2 linked regions of the Homo sapiens genome follow. The protein of the gene in region 2 purifies or fractionates together with the protein of the main gene of each other region. This does not show direct contact. Each region holds a gene or a part of one and is shown on either strand. Other genes may lie near its edges.

Region 1 (3,754 bases), on a different chromosome or scaffold from region 2:
CTTAACCATCTGAATAAATCTAGCATTGTAACAACTAATGTGGAATTTATTCTGTTCAGGGTCGTCAATGGACTCTTAAACCATGGGTACAGGATATTCCTAGTCTCAAATTATCATCCCACAGATTGCTTATTAACTACAAAGAGAAAAAGATGCCTTTACGTTGAAGAAATCTGGCAATCACCACGTAATCACCATGTTATAAATAGTGGATCAATCTAACTGGATGGGCCTCCTGATGGCAGTCCACATGAAGTACACATCGTCACTTATAAATAGTGACTTAACGTACCATCCAAACCAGAACACTTCTGAGAGCAAAAATAAATAATAATTATGCCAACACAACAGGTCACAGGGCTATCCTGGAGAAACCTGGGAATATGGTCAACCTACCAATGAAGTCTCTATGCCAAACATATTTACTCTAAATCCAATCAAGATTCAGATCTAATTTTCAGTTTACAAGAAATAAAGGATAAAGGAACTAGTCAAGCAACACAAGGAGGAAATAAACAGTTAAAGCCAGGGTGTGTGCCATTCTATAGAAGAACTGGCCTGGACTATTCCAAAAAGGCAATATGGAGGCAGGATGAGAACTGTTCTAGAGAGCTATGAAAACCAAATTTGATAAGTGAAAGTTGATTATAATATAATTTCTTTTTTTTGAGACAGAGTCTCACTCTGTTGCCCAGACTGGAGTACAGTGGCACCATCTCAGCTCACTGCAACCTCCACTTCCTGGACTCAGGTGATCCTCCTGCCTCAGCCTCCTGAGTAGCTGGGATTACAAGTGTGCACCACCAGGCCCAGCTAATTTTTGTATTTTTAGTAGAGATGGACTTTCACCATGTTGGCCAGGCTGGTCTTGAACACCTGGCCTCAAGTGACCCGCCCTCCTCAGCCTCCCAAAGTGCTGAGATTACAGGTGTGAGCCACTGTGCCTGGCCCATAATCCACATTTTAAAAAATGGGCAGAAAAGATGTATTTTGTATAACAGGGAAAATTACAATTTAAACTAGATATTACATATGGAATTATTTTCATTTTCTTAGGTGTGATAACGGTATTGCCATTAGATAGGAGAATGTCCTAGCTCTTAGGAGACAAAGATAATGATGAAGTGTTCAGGGATGAAGTATCATGATGTCTTCTGTAACTTCTTTTCTTTTTTTGGGTGGGGGGCAGGGGAGATAGGGTCTTGCTCTCTCACCCAGGTTTGGAGGGCAGTGGTGCAATCTATGCTCACTGCAGCCTCCGTCTTCTGGCCTCAAGTGATCCTCCCACCTCAGCCTCCTGAGTAGCTGTGGCTACAAGCATGCACCACCAAGCCCAGGTAATTTTTGTAGAGATGGGGTTTCACCATGTTGCCCAGGCTGCTCTGACTGGGCTCAAGTGATCCACCTGCCTCAGCCTCCCAAAGTGCTGGGATTACAGGCATGAGTCACCATGCCCAGCCACTGTAACTTATTTTCAATAGTTCAGGACAGAAAATATATAGAATGTGAATGTGGCAAAATGCTAACTGGTGAATCTAGGCAAAGAGTATGTAGGCGTTTGTGATAATACTTTTTAAACTTTTAATTGTAACTAAATGAAAAGCAGGAATCTGCAAAACATTAAATTAAAAATTCTCTATTTTATAGGTACCCAAATCTAGATACACTTGAAGAAGCAACCATTAACTGAAATGGGAACATTTTTCAAAAAGCAGCCAGCCTTCCTCTACCCCCAACTTTATCATTTCCAGGAGGCACCCTCACAATAAACTCAAGTTTCAACACACGTAAGTATGTGTCATGTTAACCTTGGGTGGAGGCTGAAATGTGAGATATGAATTCTGATGCAAGCAGGAAATGAATGGAAGGGCCACTAGAAGGTTGTAAAGTGAACAATGAAAGTTCAGCTGACAAAGCAGAAATCAGTCTCAGAAAGCAGAAGCAGCACCTCTGCTAATTGTAAAGGAACCCAGGCCAGGCATGGTGGCTCAAGCCTGTAATCCCAGCACTTTGGGAGGCCGAGGTGGGCGGATCACCTGAGGTCGGGAGTTCGAGACCAGCCTGGCCAACATGGCGAAACCCTATCTCTACTAAAAATACAAAAATCAGACGGGCATGGTGGCAGGCACCTGTAATTCCAGCTACTCAGGAGGCTGAGGCACAAGAATCTCTTGAACATGGGAGGCGGAGGTTGCAGTGAGCCAAGATGGTGCCACTGCACTGCAGCCTAGGTGACAGAGTGAGACTCTGTATCAAAACAAAACAAACAAACAAACAAAAAGGGGGGGGGAACCCAAAGGTAAGTGCAACTTTAAATAAAAAACATCTGATACCTTGAACTGGCAGAGAAATGCTAGCATTTCATATTCTATTCTAAGAGTGAAGATAGTTAAGTCATTACTTTTTTCTTTTATACAGTCGAGAAAGCAAACTACAACTAACAAAGAAAAAGCTTAGGAATTGGCAATTTAAAAAAATTTTAAATGCATTCAAATGAGAATGTTTAATTTGTTTTTTTTTTTTACAAGAACTTCCAGATGCTCACTGCATGCTTCTCTCTTTATCTCTGATATCAGATGCTCACTCCAAATTGTTCCATCACAACAGATTTTAGTAACAGCTACTCAAAATAACATGCTGTTATAACTCCTTAATTAAAAGCGCTTTAGTTCAAAAGCCACATTTGATAAGCTTATTTGTTAACTAAAAATAAAATCGGTCTGCAAATCAGAAATTTGATGTGAATATCTACGTGCCATAAAAGTACATGGTTCATGTCCAGTTGAAAAGTACAGCTGCAGACAAAAGGCTTTCTCATGTTCAACTCAGTGTTTTATAAGCAATGTAGCAAAGACTTCAAAAGAGGTGGCCATTTACACAACAGTGTAATTACTTCTAAAATTGCATTTCTAATTTTGCCATATCATTCAAGTTCCATATTTGGACATACACTTAAGACCTGTACTTCTTTTATAATCAGGTGGCTATTTTAAGTCTGCAGGCCAAGACAACACTCATGTTTGTCAAATTTAGAATGCACCTAGCAAACACCACTTGCATTCATGAAACCCAGTGAATGCAGAAGAAATTCCTAATAGCTTGAATTATGTACCAAGAAAGGGTACCTTCTGTCATAGGGTGATAATTATAATTTCTAAACTATGGTTAATGTTTAAGTGAAATCTGAAAAGCTTTGTCTTAATAGAGCTAGAGAGGGAGAAAAGGGGACAAATAAAAATGCCAGGAACTCCTCATCCCTTTTCTTTATTTTCTTTTTTTTTTTTTTGAGACGGAGTCTCGCTCTGTCGCCCAGGCTGGAGTACAGTGGCACGATCTCGGCTCACTGCAAACTCTGCCTCCCGGGTTCACGCCATTCTCCTGCCTCAGCCTCCCGAGTAGCTGGGACTACAGGGGCCCGCCACCACACCCGGCCAATTTTTTTGTATTTTTAGTAGAGATGGGGTTTCACCGTGTTAGCCAGGATGGTCTCGATATCCTGACCTCGTGATCCGCCTGCCTCGGCCTCCCAAAGTGCTGGGATTACAGGCGTGAGCCACCGCGCCCTGCCCCTCATCCCTTTTCTTTTCCTCCCTCCCTCCCCCCTCATCCCTTTTCTCTCTCTCTGAGTTTTTTTCTCAGACAAGGTCTTGCTCTGTCACCCAGGCTGGACTGCAGTGGTGTGATCTCAGTTCACTGCAACCTCGGCTTCCCAGGGTCAAGCCATCCTCCCACTTTAGCCTCCTGAGTAGCTGGG
Region 2 (3,754 bases):
TGATTCATGCCTATAATCCTAGCACTTTGGGAGGCTGAGGTGGGCGGATCCCTTGAGCCCAGGAGTTCAAGACCAGCCTGGGCAACATGGTGAAACCCTGTCTCTACTAAAAATACAAGAATTAGCTGGGCATGTAGCCTGTAGTCCCAGCTACTTGGGAGGCTAAGGTGGGAGGATCACCTGAGCCTGGGGAGGTTGAGGCTGTGGTAAGCAATAATGGCACCACTGCACTCCAGCTTGGGTGACAGAGTGAGACCCCATCTCAAAAAAAAAAAAAAAAAAGAGTGTAAACATTTAATATTTCAGATATTTGAGTAATAAGTTAGTAAGTTATGGTAAATGAACTTCATAAGAAATTGCAACAAATTTTTACTGAGCATTTCTAGCATCTGTTTTTAACTTTGTTATACTTTTTGATGCTTTTAGTGGATTTTCCAGAGATCTGTTTGGTTTTTTGTTAGAGTCCTCACCTTGGTTTCATCTCTGATATTTTCTTTTTCTTTTTTTTTTAATTTAAAACTCATATATTTTTAAGCCTTTGTTTTAAAACATCTCATGTTGGCCAGGTGTGGTGGCTCATGCCTGTAATCCCAACACTTTGGGAGGCCGAGATGGGTGAATTACTTGAGGTCAGGAGTTTGAGACCAGCTTGGCCAACATGGTGAAACCCCATCTCTACTAAAAATACAAAAATTAGCCAGGCGTGGTGGCAGGTGCCTGTAATCCCAGCTACTCAGGAGGCTGAGGCAGGAGAATCGCTTGAACCTGGGAGGCAGAGGTTGTAGTGAGCTGAGATCATGCCACTGCGCTCTAGCCTGGGCAGTAGAGCGAGACTCAGTCTCAAAAAAATAATCTCGTGTTAATTTTGCTGCTGCTTTTTTTTGTCTCTCCATAATTAAAACTTAACGTATTGTAGCAAATATCTACTTCTGATACTAGTTTTTTTAATTGAATTTATCAACATATGTAGAAATTAGTATTATTTAACCTCTTGACTAGCTGTTCTCTAAAAATAAGTCTAAATGCTAGGACATCCTTACTTATTATATATAGAAAATGTGACTTTCAAATGTGGGTCATCTTAAGTATGCTCTCATTGGAGACAAGACTTGTGAGTATTATGCTTCATGTGTGATGGTGTAGTTTTCCAGTATACTTTAAGATTGAAAATGTTGCTCAGGAGACAATTTTAAAGGATGGGTTATTTGCCTATATCTTAATTTTTTATAACTCTACAAATTCTCATTCACCTTGGTGAGGCATATGTAGAAACAGTTTAAATTCTTATTCAGGCATATGTAGATAGAAGTTTGTGCTATTTATTAGTTGGTGTATGTATGCATTATTATAGAGTAATAAAGAATCATTTTATTTTTTGCTTCTTTCATTATGCTTTATAGTACTTACATTTATCATTTTGATATTTAGTGCAAAGAAATGTGCTGCATGCATTGAGCATTTTTCTACAAGTTTTTTTCCCCCTGATGTGCTATTTCACATATCACAGGCCTTATTTTTTGAACAATTGAGCAAAAGAAACAGATGAAACCTCATACAAAACCCTCCAAAATATGAAAATGTGGGGTTTATTTGTGCTAATGCTCTTCTTTTGGAAACATTTGTGTTAAAGGTAAGGTCAATTTATTGATTTAAACCACATTGTATGTAAAAATGTATTATCCATGATTAAACTTTCTAAGACATTGTTCTTGATAGAAAAGATTTTCTAACTTGTGGAATAAAAAGATTTATTTTGCAAGTGTCAGAAATATTAAAATTAATTATTCCCAAGTTTTCTTAAATATTATGCAAAACTTTGATCTACAGCTTTGACATAATTTTCTAGGATCTTATGGTTGGTGATGAGGCAAGTGAATTACGATCAATGTTAGAAGTTAACTACCCTATGGAAAATGGCATAGTACGAAATTGGGATGACATGAAACACCTGTGGGACTACACATTTGGACCAGAGAAACTTAATATAGATACCAGAAATTGTAAAATCTTACTCACAGAACCTCCTATGAACCCAACCAAAAACAGAGAGAAGATTGTAGAGGTGAGTTTTTATGCAGGATATGCATATGTGTATTTCTGTGATATTATGTTAAATCAAAAATTTTCTTACTGTTGCTATGGATAAAGAGAATAAAAATAATTGTTTTCCTTCAGATCTTATTAAGTATCTACTATATGCTAGTCATTATTCTAAGTAGGAAAGTAGGATAGATCAGTAAACAAAAAATCCTACTGCCATGGAGTGTATATATTCTAACAGGGAAAAACAGACCAAAAAAATTAAGTTTTTAATTTAGTGAGTTAATTAAGTTAATTAAGTTTTTATGGAGGAGCCAGCAGAAGGAGACTGAAAAGGCTAATACAATAAGCAGTTACAGAGTTAATTAAATGGTTTGTTAGAAGGTGAGTGATCCAGTTGACCCATGAGCAATGCAGGGGTTAGGGGCACCAACCCTCCCTACTCACGTGCAAACTTAACTACCACCCAAAATACTTAACTTCTAATAGCCTACTGTTGACCAGAAGCCTTACTGATAACATAATATGTATTATATACTATATTCTTAACAATAAAGTAAGCTAGAGGAAATACTGTTAAGAAAATCATGGCCGGGCGCGGTGGCTCACGCCTGTAATCTCAGCACTTTGGGAGGCGGAGGCGGGCAGATCACAAGGTCAGGAGATCGAGACCATCCTGGCTAACACAGTGAAACTCCGTCTCTACTAAAAATACAAAAAATTAGCCGGGCGTGGTGGCGGGTGCCTGTAGTCCCAGCTACTCAGGAGGCTGAGGCAGGAGAATGACGTGAACCCTTGAGGCAGAGCTTGCAGTGAGTGGAGATCGTGCCACTGCACTCCAGCCTGGGCGACAGAGCGAGACTCCGTCTCAAAAAAAAATAAAAAATCATAAGAGAAAATACATTTACTATACCTTAAGTGGATGTAGATCATCATAAAGATCTTCATCGTCATTGTCTTCACACCGACGAAGAAGAGGAGGGGTTGGTCTTGCTGTCTCGGGTGGCAGAGACAGAAGAGGTGCAAGGGGAGGCAGGAAAGATTTATTGACAAAAATCGTGTATAAGTGGACCTGTGTGGTTCAAACTTGTTGTTATTCATGGATCAGCTGTAGATGCTAAAGGCAAAATAAATCAGGTTAACGGGGAGTGGGAGGTTGTAATTGTACATAGGTTGTGAGAAGGTGATGTTTAAACAGACAGGGTAAGTGAGTTAGCCAGGGTATATAGGAGAATGGTATTCCAGATAAAGGGAGTAGCCAGTGTAAAGGTCTTAAGTTAGGAACAAGCTTGGTATATTAAAGAATAAGCAAGGAAGCCAGTGTGGTTGAGGAGAGAGCAACAGAAGATGAGGTCGAGTAAGTAATATTGGTGCCTTGTAGGCTCTAATTAGGAATTGGGCGGCTGGAAGTGGTGGTTCAGGCCTGTAATCCCAGCACTTCTGGGAGGCCGAGGTGGGCGGATCACGAGGTCAAGAGTTCGAGACCAGCCTGACCAACATAGTGAAACGCCATCTCTACTAAAAATACAAAAATTAACTGGGCATAGTGGTGCGTGCCTGTAATCCCAGCTACTTGGGAGGCTGGGGCAGGAGAATCGCTTGAACCCAGGAGGCAGATGCTGCAGTGAGCCGAGATTACACCACTGCATTCCAGCCTGGGCGACAGGGTGAGACTCAGTCTCAAAAAGAAAAAAAGGGAATTGGGCTTTTACTG

The links. Proteins that work in one complex are often made in the same cells at the same time.
Region 1: the proteins of ACTR2 (region 2) and ARPC1A purify together in Homo sapiens (affinity purification with mass spectrometry; 11 studies listed by BioGRID and IntAct, with this or other methods). This does not show direct contact.

What each region holds. Positions count from the first base shown.
Region 1 is NC_000007.14:99,328,833-99,332,586, reverse strand, and holds part of ARPC1A (actin-related protein 2/3 complex subunit 1A), read right to left. Parts: intron 1-3,754. UniProt on the Homo sapiens protein: Probably functions as a component of the Arp2/3 complex which is involved in regulation of actin polymerization and together with an activating nucleation-promoting factor (NPF) mediates the formation of branched actin networks.
Region 2 is NC_000002.12:65,244,678-65,248,431, forward strand, and holds part of ACTR2 (actin-related protein 2), read left to right. Parts: intron 1-1,846; coding exon 1,847-2,062; intron 2,063-3,754. UniProt on the Homo sapiens protein: ATP-binding component of the Arp2/3 complex, a multiprotein complex that mediates actin polymerization upon stimulation by nucleation-promoting factor (NPF).